2 separate regions of the Homo sapiens genome follow, and region 1 is linked to region 2. A link means that fine-mapping ties the variant in region 2 to the plasma level of a protein whose gene starts in the linked region. Region 2 holds a variant in brackets. A gene starts in the other region. All regions are shown on their reverse strands.

Region 1 (8,596 bases), not on the chromosome of region 2:
TATTAATAGACCTGAAGAGAGAGATAGACTGCAATACAATAATAGTAAGGGAACTTAATACCTCCACTTTCAACAATGGAGAGATCATCCAGAGAGAAAATCAATACAGAAATATTGAACTTGAGCTACACTTTAGACAAAATGGACCTAACAGACATATACAGAACATTCTATACAACATAAGCAGAATATATTCTCAAGAGCACAGAGAACCTTCTATAAGATAGATTATATGTTAGGCCACAAAACAAGTGTTAACAAATTTAAAAAAATTGAAATCACATCAGGTATCTTTTCCAATCACAATGGCATGAAACTAGAAATCAATAGGAGGAATTTTGAAAATTCACAAGTATGTGGAAATTAAACAACATGCTCCTAAACAACCAGTGGTTGAAGAAGAAATTACAAGGAAAATTTAAAAATATTTTGAAACAAATGAAAGTGGAAACACAACATACCAAAACATATGAGATGTAGCAAAAGCAGTTCTAAGATGGAAGTTTATAGCAATAAATGCCTACATCAAAAAAGAAGGATCTTAAATAAACAACCTAACATCATACCTCCACAAACTGGAAAAAGAAGAAGAAATTAAGGTTTAAATTAGCACAAGAATGGAAATAATAAAGATCAGAGCAGAGATAAATGAAATATACTAGAAAAACAGTAGAAAAGATCAAGGAAACTAGGAGTTGATGTTTTGAAAAGAGCAAAATCAATAGAGCTTTAGTTAGACTAAAAAGAGAAGACCTAAATAAACAAAATCAGAAATGAAAGATGAAACATTACAACTGATACCACAGAAATATAAAGGTTCATAAGAGCCTGCTATGAATAATGTTGTGCCAACAAATTGGATAAACTAGAAGAAATGGACGAACTCCTAGACATATATAACCTAGTAAGACTGAATCATGAAGAAACAAAAAATCTGAACAGAGCAATAACAAGTGAGAAGATTGAATCAGTAATAAAAAGTCTCCCATCAAAGAAAAGCCCCACAACCTGATGCTTCACTGCTGAATTCTACCAAACATTTAAAGAACTAATACCAACCCTTCCCAAGTGCTCCAAAAAATTGCAGAAGAAGGAATACTTCCAAATTTATTGTATAAGGCCAGCATTACCCTGATACTAAAGTCAGACAAGGACACTGCAAGAAAAAAATATATTACAGGCCAATATCCCTGATGAATATAGATGTAAAAATCCTCAACAAAATACTCGCAAACTGAATTCAACAGCACATCAAAAGGATCATTCATCATTATCAAATGATATTTATCCCAGGGATACAAGGATAGTTCAACGTGCACAAACCAGTAAAAGTAACACATCACATTAACAGAATGAAGGACAAAAACCATATGATCATCTCAATAGATGCAGAAAAGGCATTTGACAAAACTGAATATCCTTTCAAGGTAAAAACTCTCGACAAATTAGGTCTAGAAGGAATGTACCTCAGTACAATGAAGCATATATGACAAGTCCACAGCTAATGTCATACTGAATAGTAAAAAGTTTAAGGCTTTTTCTCTAAGATCAGGAACAAGAGAAGGATGCTCACTCTCACTGCTTCTAATCAGCACAGAACTGGAAATCCTAATCAGAGCAACAGGTAAAAGAAAGAAAAGGCATCCAAATGAAAAGGAAGAAGTTAAATTGTCTCGGTTTGTAGAGGACATGATCTTGTATGTATAGAAAACTCCTAAAGATTCCATCCAAAAGCTGTTCGAACTGATAAATGAATTCAGTAAAACTGCAGGATACAAAAACCAACATACAAAAATCAGTAACATTTCTATACACTAATAATGAGCTATGTGAAAAAGAAATTTTAAAAATCCCATTCACAATAGCTACAAAAAATAATAAAATACTTAGGAATAAATGTAAGCAATGAGGTGAAAGATCTGAACACGCAAAACTACAAAATACCCATGACAGAAACTGAAGAAGACACAAACGAATGGAACAATATCTCATGTTCATAGATTGAAGGAATTAAAATTATTAAAATGTTCATCCCACTCAAAGCAACCTACATATTCAACGCAATCCCTACCAAAATTCCAACAACACTTTCACATTAACAGAAAAAATAATCCTAAAATTCATATGGAACCACAAAAGGTCTGAATAGCTAAAACATTTTTGAACAAAACAGAAAAACAAAAACAAAGCTGTAGGCATCATAGCATCAGTAGGACAGTAACACCCAAGGTGTGGAGTAATCCCAGGATTGAGAAATGTTTCCAGTACAAATGTAGGTCAATTTTAACTTGCCTCTGGCAAATGGCAACCACAGTTGTAGCTCAAAGTGTCCAGTGCAATTCTATCACATCTTGGTCACTCGCTAGCTTGGCAGAATCAACTATTCGCTGCATTTTGAGTAGGGGTTGTGAGTTGTGTTTTTCATTTGTGTTTTGTGTGGGTATCAAGGGTAGCATGGGGGTTAGTATAGGTCCTTGCCACCCAGAGGTGATTTATAGACCATTAGTACCTGTATCAACTCCGAGGATATGAATATGTTACAAATTCAGAATCTTGAGAATCGCCTCAACCCTACCATATTAGAATCTGTATTTAAATAAAATCTCCATATACACCTTAAAGTTGGAGAAGCTTTAAGTTCCTTAGAACTGTTAATTTTAAAGAGAGAGATGATAGCTATGTAGTGGGCAGAGTAGGATCAGTCCCTAATTTCTACTTGAAATATCCTTGTCTCAGATTCTCCATTAATTTAGAGATACCATTTCATCCCTTATGAGTAAAGGCTACAACATCTTTTGTACCCTGAACTCACTTGATCAGCAGCCTTAATTATTTCAACTATGGCCCAGACCTAGGAACTAAAAAAAAAAAAAAAAAAACAAAAAAAAAAACAGGCTGGGCACGGTGGCTCATGCCTGTAATCCCAGCACTTTGGAAGGCCGAGGTGGGAGGATCACCTGAGGTCAGGAGTTCAAGACCAGCCTGACCAACATGAAGAAACCCCATTTCTACTAAAAATACAAAATTAGACAGGCGTGGTGGCGCATACCTGTAATCCCAGCTACTCGGGAGGCAGAAGCAGGAGAATCGCTTGAACCCAGGAGGTGGAGGTCGCAGTGAGCCAAGATCACACCATTGCATTCCAGCCTGGGCAACAAGAGGGAAACTCTGTCTCAAAAAACAAACAAACAAACAAAACACTCCAGGCATGGATGCCTTAATAGCTACATATATATCACAGATTCTGTGTTTTACACATTAGCAAGATCTCAGACCCTTATGATTCCAATAAACTTAGGGCTATGGATCCCTGACCACGAAGGATTGGAAGCAGCAAAGTAGGGCAAAGGGAAAGAAGTAAAATATGGAGTTGGGGTGAAGTTTACAATGAGAATTGATGGTAGAAAGAATAGCTTTGACATTTTCGTAGTTATTTAGATTTATAAATCTGTGCACACGTCAAAAACAGTCACTCAGATCTTAGAGAAATTGTACTTAACCCTGCCTACGTGTTAGCATCACCTACTTTTCTCAAGCCTCAATCTCGGAGATTCTGATGTAATTGGTTTGGAGTGGGATCCAGGCGCAGGTGTTTCATTAAAGCTTCCCAGGTGATTCTTAGTGGTTTAGGCTCAGTCATCATAGGGCCCAAAGGCCTAAACACCTAAGTAGCCTCTAAATAGGCTCTTTCCAGCTTGCTATAATCATTGACAATCAAGGACCCCAGGGTTGGTGAGGATGACCTTGGTTACTAGGATTTTCTTTTAAGAGGAAAACACTCTATATATTAGAGGTGATTTTGGCAGAAAATAAGATAGCCTGGAAGTAAATGATACACAAACACCGATATAAGTCCTGTGTCATAGTTGGAGAAATCTGGAGGGCACTGGTGTGTTGAATCAGACACCCCCTATCTCTCCCTCTTGACCCTCCCTCCATATAGCCCAACATTTACCATGCCCGTGAATCACCTGGGGGTCTTGTTCCAATACAGATTCTGACTCAGTAGTCTTGGGGGAGGCTCCAGATTCTGTCATTCTTACGAGCTCCAGGTGATGCTACTGTAGCTGGTCCAGGGACAACACTTTGAGTCAAGGTCATCCTGATGGCCTTGACTACTCCTCAACCCCTTCTTTGGAACCCAAACAAGAAGAATGGCTCCCATGAATTCCACTGGGGTCCTTGATCTACAGCCACTGTACCAAAAACTGTAGGCATTCCTGAACTAACATCATATATTTTGTCCATCTCTTTTCTTAACTATTCCCTCCTCCCACTAGGCAATGTTATAGGAGGATTGGGGCCTACTGAGTTAGAAACAAGCTTAGAGAGCAGGTATTTTGCCCCATTCATTACAAAACTATGGCACTGAGGCCAAGTTGCAAAGGATTTGTCAAGTTCACAGGTGATCGTGGTAAAGGCAAAACTAGATCTAAATCAGGACATGAACGCATCCATTAAGGATTCTGTCAAAATGATTGCTTCCTGTAGCTTTCTGTGTGAAACATCCATTTGCTTATCCTCAGGGAAATCAGACTAACAAAGACTTGGAAAGGAACATAAAATTCTAAAGCTAGGCTTATGGCCTTTATAACCCTTAGATGGGGCAGATAACATGCCACGGAGGCTCAGAGACAGCTCTGAGACTATGCAATAGCTACTGTTTCCCCTCTTGTGGAATGTTCACTTAAAAAAGCTCAAGGGCTCTATAAGTTGCCCAATGAACTCCACAGACATCCTTAATTCATTTTCATTTATTGGAACCCTCTCTCAAATAATTTTCTAAATCTCACGCAATAATGATGTATATTCTTGCTCAATATTAAGAAGCCCTCATGCAAAACTGAAGAAATAAATTGTTCTTACAAAAGAAGGAAAAAGGAATTATATTCTCAGAACATTCTGCTTACCCAGACACACAGATCTGATTCTTGCTCCATTGTTTGTGGCATTCTGGATCCTAGGGCCATTGATGAGGCTGGGTCAGTGGCCACACTGGCTCCTGGGTACCCCTTCCCTGGCCACAAAAGTCCATCCCAGCAGCACTATTTAAACTGGACTTATTTCTCACTTCACAGCTCTGGCCTGGGCTGAGACCTCCCCAACAGAGCTTATTAGCGAGCTTGTCATCTTGCTCTGTGGCTATCTAGGTCTGGAGTCAAGAGCCATTCACAGGAAAATCAGCATGAAACCTTTAAGTTTGCATATTAAATATTAACACCACTAAGGGCTACAGTGGAAAAGAGGTTTGCTGAGCTCAAGGGCCCTCACTCCACCCCCAACTTCCCTTGGCTTTTCTCTTCTATGTTGTGTTCCTGGTAAATCCCATTATGTCTCGACTACCTTAGGCCCTCTCAGCCCCTTCTTGGGAATTAGGCTCTCTGGATAGGCAAAGAGGCAGATACCCAGCTGCCAGGTGAATCAGATGTCCTCATCAGATCTCTTAATTTCCACTTTGGTGATATTTCAAAGGATCACAAATTATGTTCTTAGTGCCTGGTCAGAGAACTGGGAAAGAGCTGGAAGATGAGACACCAAACTCCATCCCATGGTGATGTTTGAACCAGGCTGGAGCTGGTTTCACATGTTTTTCATTGTGCATGACTTTCTTAATTGCCTTAGTGGGAATGCGTTACTGCAAAATAAAGTGAAATTGTTTTCCTTATTGCTTGTAATTTACAGAGGGGTGGTTTTGATCATATAAACCAGGCACTTTTCAAATCCATTGATCTTAGGGTGGAAGGAGGGATTTCTTTTTAAGTATTCATTTCGAACTATGCTTTCACTAGTAAACTCAAAGCCCAAGGGCAAAAACCCATGATTCTCCATTTTGTAATAGCTATTAGATGTCCACAGCACATCAGACCTGTGGAAAACGCATGCTTTGTGTATGGAAGAGGGAGAGGGAGCGTCAGGAGTTGTCCTTTGCCAAAAAACGTACTCTGACACTCAAAGGCACAGGCTGGTGGAGATCCAGGGAACCCGGGAAAGCCCAGGCCTAACTCAGGCCCGCGCGGGTCTCTTCTGATCCCATAAGATGAGGAGTGGGTCCTGGCTCTGGGCATCCTGGTGTCGACTGTGAGTTCCCAGCAGAGGCCCAGAGTCCCGGTCCGGCAGCCGAGGGAAGCGGGGGGGTCTTCCAGAAGAAGAAAGGGCCAAGGTCACCCCGGTGCCTCTCCAGCAGCAGCAGAGGGCGGCGGTCGGTGTCGCTGCTGGCCGGGGCCTCGAGGAAGGCGCGGGCCAGCTGGGGCCGGGTCTGCGTTCCCAGGAGCTGCCACCGTTCCAGGGAGCAAGTCAGGCCGGGACGTAGCGCCTGCGCGGGACCCTCACTTGCCACCAAGACCCCCACAAACCCCGCCCCATCCTGCCTTACGCCCCGCCCCAAGGTCGTTCTCCCGACCCGGGGTCCCGCCCCAAGGCCGTCCTCCCGCCCCGCCGCTTGGTGGCGGCCGCATGCTGCCCGGATATAAAGGGTCGGCCCCACATCCCAGGGACCAGCGAGCGGCCTTGAGAGGCTCTGGCTCTTGCTTCTTAGGCGGCCCGAGGACGCCATGGCCGAGTGCCCGACACTCGGGGAGGCAGTCACCGACCACCCGGACCGCCTGTGGGCCTGGGAGAAGTTCGTGTATTTGGACGAGAAGCAGCACGCCTGGCTGCCCTTAACCATCGAGGTACAGCCAGCTTTGGAGCGGATGGCGAGGCAGCAGGGGCAGCCCCTGGGAGCTTGGGATGCCCTAGGAAGGGCGAGGACTCAAGGAGCACTCACTATGGGGCAGGGAGGATCCCCACAGATGAAGCCACTTTGAGCCGGGCTCTGGAGGATGAATAGGAGTTCTCCAGGCAGGGAAGAAGGGTGGGAAAACCGCAAAGGAATGTCGGTCAAAGGGGTGGACCCAGTGCCTGTGGAGTGTGACTATAATGTTGACTACAGCAGGCATTTTCTGGGCTTCGGGGTCCTAATCCTTAAAAATGGGTATCTCTAAGTGACTCATCCATATGGCCGATTATCGGAATCATCTCAGGTGGGTCCCAGAAATCTGTATTTTTAAAAAGAACCCTCAACAGTTTAGGGTCAACCAGGCATAGCAAACACTGGCCTAGAGTGTGAAGTATTTTCCACTACCTCTGGGCTTTATTTAGAAAACAAATTTAACAAGTGATGTCGTAGTATAAGCGCCGGTATTGAATCAATATTGACTTTTTTAATGTGTGATGCCTTAAGATGGGTCCTTAATCCATGTTAAGTTTTTGTTAAAGAAATAGATAAGTCTTTTACAAGTATTTGGATTTACTCAATGAAAAAGAGTCAAAAAATGTTCAAACTCTCTCCAAACATACACTGAAGAAAGCATAAAAATTAAAAAATATATTAGAACACGTATGTCCAGTAGCAATCAAAAATTATTGAGTGTTGACTGTGTCTCTACAGATGGGAAACTGAGGCACAAAAATGTACATTTGTCCGAGGTAAGATTGCTAGTAGGTAATGGGGTTGGAATTCTAGGCTCTTAACCACCACAAAATCTGCATTTTTATTGGCATTTCAATTTTTTAAATATGTTTTTACTTTAAAAATCAAGTTAAATACTTACTTTTTTAAAATCAAAATTTGAAGAAATAATTTGAAGATTCAGTGGATTTCTTTTTTTAAATCTCTGAGAAATCTCTTCTTCAACGTGACACCAAAACCACGAACCAGACAGTTTTTCATAAAATCATGATACATGCTCCACAAAAAATAACCCACTAGCAAACTGTGGGACAGATTTTGCCTCACATCATTGAAAAGGCCAGTATTCTTTTTCTCTCTTTCTTTCTTTGTTGTTTTTTTTTTTTCCTGTAGATACAGGGTCTCGCTCTGTGACCCAGGCTGGTCTTAAACTCCTGGCCTCAAGCGATCCTCCTGCCTCTGCCTTCCAAAGCACTGGAATTACAAGTGTGAGCCGCTGCAACCCGCCAGAAAAAAGTGTGCCTTTCATGGCCCTGTCTGGGTGGCTAGACACGTGTGTGTGCTGGTGGTCCTGGCCCAGCCAGAGTCCCTGAGAGGAGCATGCATGGCCTAAGGAAGTGAGCTTCAGGGAACAGTGATGACCATCATTTCACACTCGGACCCCTGCCCAGATGGGTGGATGGCTGGCAGGAGGGATTCCGGTTTTCTGCGCCTGGAGAAGCCCTGGCAAGCGGAACCTGAAAGTATGCCCTGTCCTTTTCTTCTCCTCAGATAAAGGATAGGTTACAGTTACGGGTGCTCTTGCGTCGGGAAGACGTCGTCCTGGGGAGGCCTATGACCCCCACCCAGATAGGCCCAAGCCTGCTGCCTATCATGTGGCAGCTCTACCCTGATGGACGATACCGATCCTCAGACTCCAGTTTCTGGCGCTTAGTGTACCACATCAAGGTGAGTGTCTTTCTCCCAGAGGTCCATCGGGTGATCTTGGGTTTGCCCTCCTCCATGTCTGGCCTTAGTGGTTTATCTTCCCTCCATCCCAGTCCCAAAAGCATTAAAAAATGGGGGAAATGTACAAGTGCAGATTTCTAAAGGACTTTACCAGAGAGAAGATAGATCCTCTGAGGTCTCTAACAGAACCCTACCTCC
Region 2 (10,040 bases):
AGTTTCCTAAAGAAATTAAACATAAAAATAACGTATTCCTTCTCTGGAGATACACTCAAAGGAAATGAAATTACCACCTCATAAAGATATCTGCATTCCTGTGTTCATTGCATCATATTCACAATAGCCAAGATATGGACACAACCTCGATGTCTGTTGATAGATGAATGGATAAAGAAAATGGAATATTATTCAGCCTTAAAAAGTAGGAGATCCTGCCATTTGCACAACACAGATGGACCTGGAAGTCATTTTGCTAATAGACACAGAAAGAAACATGTTGCACTATCTCACTTACATGTGGAATCTAACAAAGAAATAAAAGGTGAAATACACAGAGATAGTGAATAGAACAGTGGTTATGAGGGATTCGGTGGGGGGTGAGGCAACGGGAGATGTAGGTCAAAGGATGCTAAGTAGCAGACACGCAGGAGAAACAAGCCTGAGACATAAGATCCATCATGAGGACTACAGGGCGTCATAGTGCATCGTATTCAGGATTTTTGCTAACTGAGTAGATTATAGCTGCTCTGACCACAGGGGGAAGGGGAAAATGGGTAACTATGGCGATGACGGATATTAATGTGTTCACTATAGTAACCATTTTACTATATACCCATATGTCATCATAATATCATGTTGTTAGGATGATATACACAACAGAATTTATTTTTTAAATACATGCAAATATTGAGACTGGGAAAAAAATGTGTCTTGAGAAAAAAACAAATGCAAGTTATCAGCCTAGAAAGCCATTGACCTCCTTTTAAAATGTTTCTCATCAAATGGCCTGGAGAGATGCTAGAAAATTACCAATCCAGAAAGTGAGACGTGTTGATAAAGCCTCCTATTGGCAGGCACCTTAGAAAAGGCCAGGCACACAGGGCTTGTGGGATGCTTAGAATTGTCTGTATGCAGTGGCCTACAACAGGCTAGTCGGGGCCTGAGAGCCACCCCCTAGGGTGCCTTTACTGTGCCATGAGGAATGCTTGCTGCCCTCAATTACGTGGGACCAAGCCCCACTCCTTCAAGTCACTGCCTGAGCCACTCCTCTGTGAAGTCTTCTCTAGTGCCCCCTCCCAGAGCCCCAGGCAGCTTGTGTGTGCCTCAGTTTCCTTATCTGTAAAATGGTGATAGTAACATTCCCTTCCTCACAGGGTTCCTGGGACCGTGACATGAGTTAGTACCCACAAAGCACTCAGCCAACAGAAGTGATTATTAGTGTTAAGACATTTTTTGTCATCCTCTGCTGCAATTGTTTATTTCTCATTGAGAGATGGTGAGCTCCTTGCAAGCAGTTCTTGTGATTTATTGGAGCACAGTAAACATGCATTGACTTAGTAAAAGATCATGTGAATCCACCAGCAAATGGGTGAGTGAATAAAAGGATTAGCAGCTGGGTGGACCAGAAACCACAGCCCAAGAGGCCCATGCATGGCAGCTGTTCCCATTTATAGCCATTGCCTTTCTGAAAGTTTTAAGAAGCTGATCAGAGCAGGAGCTCTGGCTTGGTACCCATGGCCTGACAGTCACCTTTTCAGAAAGCTCTCCCTGACCACAAAGCTCAATAAGCCCCTTCTGAGGAACTCTCTCCTACATCAGTCTTTCTTTTTCATTTCACTAGCTAAGATTATTATTTCATTTCTTCAGTTACTTGTGTGCTTCTTTACTGTCTATCTTTCGTACCAGAAAATAAGCTCCTAAAAGCTGGGACCTTGTCTGTTCATCCCTGTATCTTCAGTGTCTTGAACAGTGCCTGGCCCAGAATTGATGCTCAATAAATGTTTGATAAGGCCAGGCACGGTGGCTCATGCCTGTAATCCCAGCAGTTTGGGAGGCCAAGGCGGGAGCATCACTTGAGGTCAGGAGTTTGAGACCAGCCTGGCCAACATGGGGAAACCCTGTCTCTACCAAAAATACAAAAATTAGCTGGGCGTGATAGTGCACGGCTGTAATTCCAGCTACTCAGGAGGCTGAGACATGAGAATCTCTTGAACCCAGGAGAAAGAGGTTGCAGTGAGCTGAGATCGCACCACTGCACTCCAGCCTGAGTGACAGAGTACTCTGTCTTAAATAAATAAATAAATAAATAAATAAATAAATAAATAAATAAAATGTGTGATAAACGAATGAATCCTCTACCAAAAGAATGTGATCTAGAACAAGCTCTCCTTTTGGGGGCGAACTGCCGTCCCTCTAGTCTGCCTTCCTACTGTGCTAGCATATTCATCTGCACTGGGCCAACAACTAGACATCGTTCAGACTGTGTTTGCATTTTCAAAACCGTTTGCAATGCCAGGAATTCCATCAGGTGCTTTCAAATTTGAGTTATAATAAATGAGTAACCATGTGCTCCTTCTCACTAGTAGCTTCAAATAAAGGAATCTTCAGTAACCTTGCATCTAACATTTCCTGTTTTCTGGGATTTTTTTTTTAGATGGAGTCTCACTCTGTTGCCCAGTCTGAAGTGCAGTGGCACTCTCATTTCACAGCAACCGCCACCTCCCAGGTTCAAGTGATTCTCCTGCCTCAGCCTCCCAAATAGCTGGGATTACAGGTGCCCACCACCACACTGGCTAATTTTTGTATTTTTAGTAGAGACAAGGTTTCACAATGTTAGTCAGGCTAGTCTCGAACTCCTGACCTCAAGTGATCTGCCCACCTCAGCCTCCCAAAGTGCTGGGATTACAGGCATGAGCCACCATGCCTGGCCACATCTCCTGCTTTCAATTTGCAAAATGTGGGTTTAAAAATATATGTGACTTTCAACAGAATTTTTTCTTTTATAAAAGTAAGGTGGCTGTTCACAAGAAGTAACTATGTATCTGATGTATGTTCCATGTGTCTTCTGATGATCATGCAGAAGGGTGATGTGTGTGCACAGCTGTGAGTCTAAGAAGTAAAGATGCCATTCCTCTAATGCGCCTGAAATACCTTCATATGCCCCTTTTGGCCACATTCGTAATAACATTAATCTAAACCTGGTTTTCAGTGTAATTTTGGGTAAGATTCAAAAAGGAAACACATACAAGGCTTAATAAAGTTCCCCTCAGTAGGAAAATGGAAAATTATCTTTTTTTCTGTTTCGGACTTGATGCCACATTTTTAAAAACAATGTAAATTTGCTTTTACTATTTAATTGTTCTTTAATGGAATAACCACAATTAGGATTTCCCCTCCTAATGTATCTGAGCAAATTGAGTAATAGGATTCATACTTACCGGTGCAGTTCTGAATCTGGTGATGGGGTTGTTGATGGAATATTAGAATTTGCTGGGTGGGTGGCTGTGAAATGAACCTTGCCGGTATATCCTGGAATATTTGCAGCACTAAAGTGAAGAGTTAAGAGAGGAGGAAAAGAGGAAATTAAAATGATGATTTGTGAAATTGTCATGGTAACTAGCACCCAAATATGAAAAATATAAAGAAATATGCAGTCTAATTTTTTTTTTCCTGTATGAGGTGTGGAACTTGGGCTGTCCAAAAAGGAAACAGTGCAGGCCTGGGGCGTGCTGATGCACAGGTACTTAGATAACAGCCCTATGCTGGGGTCGATAAAATTTATTTCAAGTTCATGTTTTTCTGCTATTTTAAATTTCCATGTCTTTTACAAACATGACTCACTGCTGAGCTCTGTTTCATAATGAAGGAAGATACCAGGTCTTGACAGAGTGGCAGACCTGTATCCCACACATATTTCTGTAATGCAGACTCTAATATTAATGAATATACACTCTTACATTTATAGCATTGTTACTTTTATCAGATATCTTTCTTATCACCATTAATGTACTGCATTGTAAATTTCAGATGATTTCCTAAAATTGCCCATTGGAAACAAACGTACACCAGCATTAATTCTACAACAGTCTGTTTAGAATTTGAATTTAAACAGTTTAGTTTGAATTCCACTGACTCTTCTGCTTCCCTGTTCTTTTCTCCACCAGGGACAGTGGGAGATAAAAGGAAAACACAAGAGTGAAGAAGCCGTTCTTCAGTGTGTATAAAAGCTCTCTCTCTCCAGAAAAGGCAAACGAGCATTCAAGAGAAAGGCTTAAGTAGGTAGTTCAGAGGAAGGAATGTGAAGAATAATGAATATTCTTGCCATGATAGCACACAAGTTGGTTTACACAGATTATTTCCTAGGAGGTGGGTAAGGCTTATGGGACAGGCCCAGCATGAAGCTCCATCCTGTGTGCTGCAAGGAGTTGAGGAAAATAAGATTTAAATTGTATTTCAAAGTCCAAGAACACAACATTTACAGATCATGAGGCTCTGTGTAATAGCCTACCATCTTTGCAGAGTCGTATCAACGCCATGGCCTCAGCTTACTGTGCTGGCCTCAGGGAGGAATAAGAAAGGCCACCATCATGAACTTGCCCCCAGGGAGGAAAGGGCCAGTGGGCAGATTGCAAATTTCATTCATCTCAGTGGCTTTCACTTGCCATCCTTGGACCTTTCTCTGAGAGCAGGACATCCTTGTGGCATGGTTCCCTATTCAAAATTGGTGCCCAGACAAAATGCAACACAGTAGCAACAAGCAAACCTCTGTGGGTGGTGGAGGAATGGTTCTTCAATGGCTGCCTTGGTTATATCCATGACCTTCCCACACGACCAGTAAGCCACACAAAGCCTTCTCCAGGAACCACTTATCTTAGGAGTAATTTTCAAAATTTGGAGCTTATAGGAGTTGCTCCTGAAAGTATCAGGTGACAAGGCAGGCAGAAGAGAGGTTAGTGAAAGGGGTGTGTGCTTAAGGGTTGGGAGGAAGATTCAGTCCCCGGTTCCCCATGTCATCTCTGGGATCTGGACTGGACATAGTCTTTTGGAGCCTTCTAGCCTCAGCCTGACCCCGGGTAGTGATACCAACCGGAAGGACTTGGGTGAGGGAGAAGTGGAAACGAGAAGGATTCACACTGCAATTTCTTGGTGTCCTTCCCACATTGATTATGTGCAAGTATCAGAATGTTAGGGGGAAAATACATATCAGGCAGGGAATTGCACTAATAAATCTCCTAATTCTCTTCCAGCTGTGTAATTTATGACTCTGTTGGTGATGACTTATTGGCTTGCAGGTGATATAATCAAGGACACCCAGAGACTAACAAAGTGAAGGGAAATTACATCTATGGCAACAGCAGAATAAACAGTACAAAATAACAGATTTTGTGAGACTAGGAAAATAAGGCAG[C/T]TAAAGAGTGGGGGCAGCCCACTGCATCGAGAAGCAGGCTTCTGTGGCAAGCCTGACTCTGCCCCTTAACCAACTGTGAGGTTTTACTCCAGTGAAGAAAGCTCTCTGGGCTTCAGCTCGGTCAACTGCAGCATGAAGAGGACAACACTAACCTCTTAGGGGCACTCTGGGGATTAGAGGAGACTTCAATGAATATGAAAACAGCTAGCAAATTGTTAGCACTTAATAGATGCTAAACTAATTTCAGTTGAAATACAGTAATTTAAAGAAATAAAACATTTACAAAATAAGGGCCATGCACATGGGGATTGCAAAGTTTATCCAGTACAGACAGCTGAAAAGATGCTAAGACAGAGGTTCCCAATGGTGCTGCACACTGACATCTCAGAGGCATCTTGAAAGGTACCAATGCCTGGCTCCCACTCCCACATTTTTTTTTTTTTTAGATGGAATCTCGCTGTATTGCCCAGGCTGGAGTACAGTGGCACAATCTCGGCTCACTGCAACTTCCACCTCCTGGGTTCAAGTGGTTCTCCTGCCTCAGCCTCCTGAGTAGCTGCTATTACAGGTGTGCACCACCATGCCCAGCTAACTTTTGTATTTTTAGTAGAGTCGGGGTTTCACCCTGTTGGTCAGGCTGGTCTTGAACTCCTGACCTTGTGATCCACCCGCCTCGGCCTCCCAAAGTGCTGGGATTACAGACGTGAGCCACCGTGCCCGGCCCAGCCCCATATTTTAATGTAACTAGTAAGTGGTGTAGCCTGAGCACTGGGACTTTTGACAGCTCTCCAGATGATTCTCCTGTGCTGCTAAGTTCAGGAGCCTCTGTTTTACAGCCACATTGTCAAGCTTGCTGGAGGGACCTAGGTGAGTGAACTGAAGCTGCTGAATTCTAGGCAGTGCCCTGCAGGATTTTTTGGAATTTTGTTGGAAAAGTGCAGCTGTAAGTTAGAGAGGTAACCCAGAATGAGGCAAAGTTATTCATGCGTGTGTCTCTCCCCCAACCATTCATTAAAGCTTCCATGCATGTTACAAAGGAAATCCCCTCCATCTGTGTGAAAGGTTTTTTCCACTGCCTTTGAAAACACCTGCAGAATTAAAATGCCTCTAAAGTCATATCCTGCCATCAGAGCAGTTAAGAAGTCAGAGGGATGGACGCAGGCCATCTGTCAATCACATGAAAGGCTTGATAAAAAACATTGCACAGCCTCTGTGCCTCTGTGGCATGCATGTTATTGATGCTAAATGGTATCATATGTTACATTGTCTTAATGCTATTAGATTACATCATATTTAATAATAACATTTCATGGAAGATTAGACTGATTAGCTGCTCAGTCTTGGGAATGAATTCAGTTGCATAATAAATTGCCAAATATTTGAAAACGAAAGTCCTCACCCACACTGCTTCTAAATCTACTCCATTTAACCCTGGCACATATGGCCATAACAAGGGGAATTTTGCCATCTTAAGTGCAACACAGCGACCTTATATTAAGAGGAGAATACTCTCTGGGGAACACTTTAGACTGCTGCTGATAGGAGATATTATTTTTCAGCTGGAGGGAACAAAGCTATTAAAGATACTGAAACATACAAGCCGGGAAATGGATTTCCAGGTTAGTCGCATGTTCAAAGAATTCCACTCCCCATTTGAGGAAAGTAGAGAGACGCAGAGACCCACTTAAAAATAAGAAGTCTTCATTTTTGCCTTTGCTCCACAGCTTCTAGTCCTTTAAATACCTTATTTTGTACTCCCTAGTTCCAAATAAGCCAGGATTTTGTTCACTAATTGATAAATTTGAATATATTATTGCCCAAGTCTACAATGAATTGGTTCTCAACCAAACATGATAAAATAGAAATTAAGTAATTTAAGAAAATCAAGAAGTTTAGTAACTCAGAAGAAGGGAGCACAGATGGTATATAAGTTAAATATGAGAGGAAAAATGTGGAGAAAACCATGTTATACGTAGAATATATGTATTGTATATGTGCATAAAATTTAGGCATGCATAGAAATTCTCACTCTACACTGTAAACATGACTAATAGTCATTGAGTATGTTCTATATTCCAGGCACCCTTTTAAATGCTTGATGTAAATTGACTGTTTAATTCTCACAACAATCTTGTGTCATAGGTCCTATGATCATGTCCATTTTATAGATGGAGAAACTGACACAGAGAAAGTCTAAGTATCATGGCCAGCACCAACCAAGCTGGCAAGTGGTAGAACTGGACCTCAGTGCAACTGAACTGAATAGGAAGGACCATTGGCATTACTCCCAGCCCAGCCAGGAGAGCCTCATTAGCTCACAGTGGGCTGCAATTATACAGGGTGGGGTGTAAGTGCAGGTTCAAATCAATGTGATAGTCTTTTATTTAGAGCCATTCTATATCAGCTACAGTTCTAGGCAGACATCAAGCTGACTTAGCTCCCAACAGCTTTCACACTAATACTTTTAATTTAAAAAATGCACATTTAAATGTTTAAAGATCCCAAGTGAACAAAGACCATGGATGCGACATAAGGGAGGGGGGTGTGAGACAGACACATTTAATTCCAGGGCTGCCCTGACCAGCTGTGTGAACTTAGACCTCAACTGAAGTTTTCTCAGGCATCCTCACCTATAATTGGCCATCAGTCAGGGTAGCTGCACTCCCTTGGAGGGTGCTGGGGGCGATGTGATGCAAGTAAAGGCCTGGCACAGTGCCCAGCATGCAGCAGGTGCAGACCCATGTGAGAGGAGCAGCAGGTCATGGATGGAAGTTAGGGTGGGCAAGGGGAGCAGAAAGTGGGAGACGGAGGAAGAGTAGTAAATTCCAGGCTTGGACTTTAAGGAGGGTCAGCCCAGAGGGCTGAGAGAAGGGAAGGACTGCAGAGAACTGTGAGGCAGATGTGGCTGGAGGGGAAAAGACAGGAGTCCATTGTGAGTTGGGGTTTGTCTGATTTTATTGTTCAATGACAAATGCAAATAAAACTGGAATCATTTTGCAATGACTTTGATCACTGGATTGCATTTTTCTGAATATCATAAGATGTCGTGGCCACAAGATATTTTTTAGGAATTGCAGGTTTATTGATTATTCTCTTCATCTGGTGGGTATATTCTTTCCTCCTGTGTTCTTGGGATCTTCAATTCTTCCATTTAGGAGGGAATGTAGAAACAGTATAACTCAAAGCTCCAAGAACCCATTATTTGCCAAAGGCAGAAGCCACGTTTAATGTGAGTTAAGGCAAGAGCTTGCCCTGGGGATTAAGAGGCCAGTTCTCTGGACTTTTTACCACTCATGAAATGAGTGATCTTGGCTCTTTATGCCATTTCCTCTGGCCTCAGCCTCCTCATCTGCAAAATGGGGATAGAACTTGCACCTTCATTTCTGGCCTCATCACACTATTTGAAAAACAAATGAGGGAGTGTGTGAAAGTAGTCTGAAAAGGCAGAAGTATTGGGCTGATCTAAGGAACTACTATTCATAGAGTTATTCTTTAACCTGGGTTGTGGTAAAATTTTGTTAAGCTGCAACACAGTCCAGCGACTGACAGGGAAGCCCCCTTTTCCATGGGAGACATGTGCCAGGGGCTGCCTGGGGGTCCATGTTGGACAATTCCTCTTTATTTGCAAATGCTTCCTCAGAGCAATCATTGAGGTCAAAAAGCACAGTAAATATGAAACCTTGTAACGTCCTTAGATAAAAGATTATAACTTAGTGGAGGATGGTACCTCATAGGCAGCTGCCTAGTTTGGAAAAACAAGCAAATGGTGACTGCAAGTGCTGGGTTTGGGTTCAGAAGGCATGGGCTGTGCTGCTCTGTTAGCTGGGCCTGCACCTCACCTTTGCTGAGCCTGTTTATTCTTTGGAAATACAAGTGTGAGATGCATATATGTTAGATCTCAGGGCTCTCTCCCATATATGTAAGATGTATATATATATATATATATATATATATATATATATATATATACACACACATATACACACACACACACACACACGCACATATATATATATACATATATATATATGTATATATAATCTACAATAGAGTCTGTTACAAAAGAAAAAGTACCCCAACACTCTTTCCATATCCTTGGGAAAGGACAGAGATCTGCCATTACAGATGATTCAATTTTTATGTTCCTTGTACTGATGACTCATGACTGCAAAGCACTGAAATTATATGGGACTGTAAAATGGTTACTAAAAGGGACTGAGCTTATCTTCAAACTTGTTCACCGAGCCCTTGCAAAGAATATGGATCTTATACTGAAGAGGATAAAAACAACAGATTTGAAAAACAGGATTCTTTTTTTTTTTCATTTTTGAGACAGGGCCTCTGTCACCCAGGCTGGAGTGCAGTGGCGCGATCTTGGCTCACTGCAACCTTCACCTCCCAGGCTCAAGCGATTCTCCTGCCTCAGCCTCCCTAGTAGCTGGGATTACAGGCGCTCACCACCAAGCCTGGCAAATTTTTGTGTTTTTTAGTAGAGATGGGGTTTCACCATGTTGGCCAGCCTGATCTCCAACTCCTCACCTCAGGTGATCCACCCGCCTCGGCTTCCCAAAGTGCTAGGACTACAGGTGTGAGCCACCGTGCCAGGCCTGAAAAAGCAGGATTCTCATCTCAGTCTTACCTTAACTTTCTGCTTGACACAGATTATAAGTGCGGATGAATTTGCATCATTTTAAAAAAATTCCTGAACACTACCCAGATCCGGTCAACAGTTCATGTTTGTTGAAGAAACAAAGATAATTGTTTAGCTATACTGAGCTTCAATAATTTTTGTTGAACCCAATGACTATTTTGGATTCTTTCTATTTCCTAAACTAGTCTCAAGTTATAA

Which allele goes with the higher level. Alleles are on the strand shown, and positions count from the first base shown. The strength of an association depends on the size of the effect and on how common the allele is.
With allele C in place of T in region 2, the plasma level of the protein whose gene starts at base 6,493 in region 1 is higher (weak association).

The links. PIP is the posterior inclusion probability: the model's chance that the variant is causal. The UK Biobank Pharma Proteomics Project read protein levels with antibody pairs (Olink). The fine-mapping took linkage between variants from a reference panel, not from the people measured, so its PIPs are less certain.
Region 1: TCL1A starts here. The variant in region 2 is fine-mapped to the plasma level of the TCL1A protein (UK Biobank, PIP above 0.99).

The regions. Positions count from the first base shown.
Region 1 is chr14:95,712,022-95,720,617 of GRCh38, reverse strand. It overlaps TCL1A (TCL1 family AKT coactivator A), which reads left to right and starts at 6,493. Exons shown (of 4, transcript NM_021966.3): 1 at 6,493-6,671; 2 at 8,222-8,398. The coding sequence starts at 6,552. It overlaps LOC107984703 (a long non-coding RNA gene), which reads right to left and starts at 5,135. Exons shown (of 3, transcript NR_148060.1): 1 at 4,911-5,135; 2 at 3,050-3,147. RefSeq lists a silencer at 6,239-6,478 and enhancers at 6,709-6,758, 7,873-8,092, 8,133-8,292, 8,333-8,432.
Region 2 is chr7:50,144,739-50,154,778 of GRCh38, reverse strand. SPMIP7 (sperm microtubule inner protein 7) reads right to left here. Exons shown (of 9, transcript NM_001161834.3): 8 at 3,222-3,329. Among named protein-coding and RNA genes, the nearest start is that of SPMIP7, 54 kb to the right of the region's middle. RefSeq lists a silencer at 8,943-8,992. The variant C/T (reference allele first, on the strand shown) is at 5,192.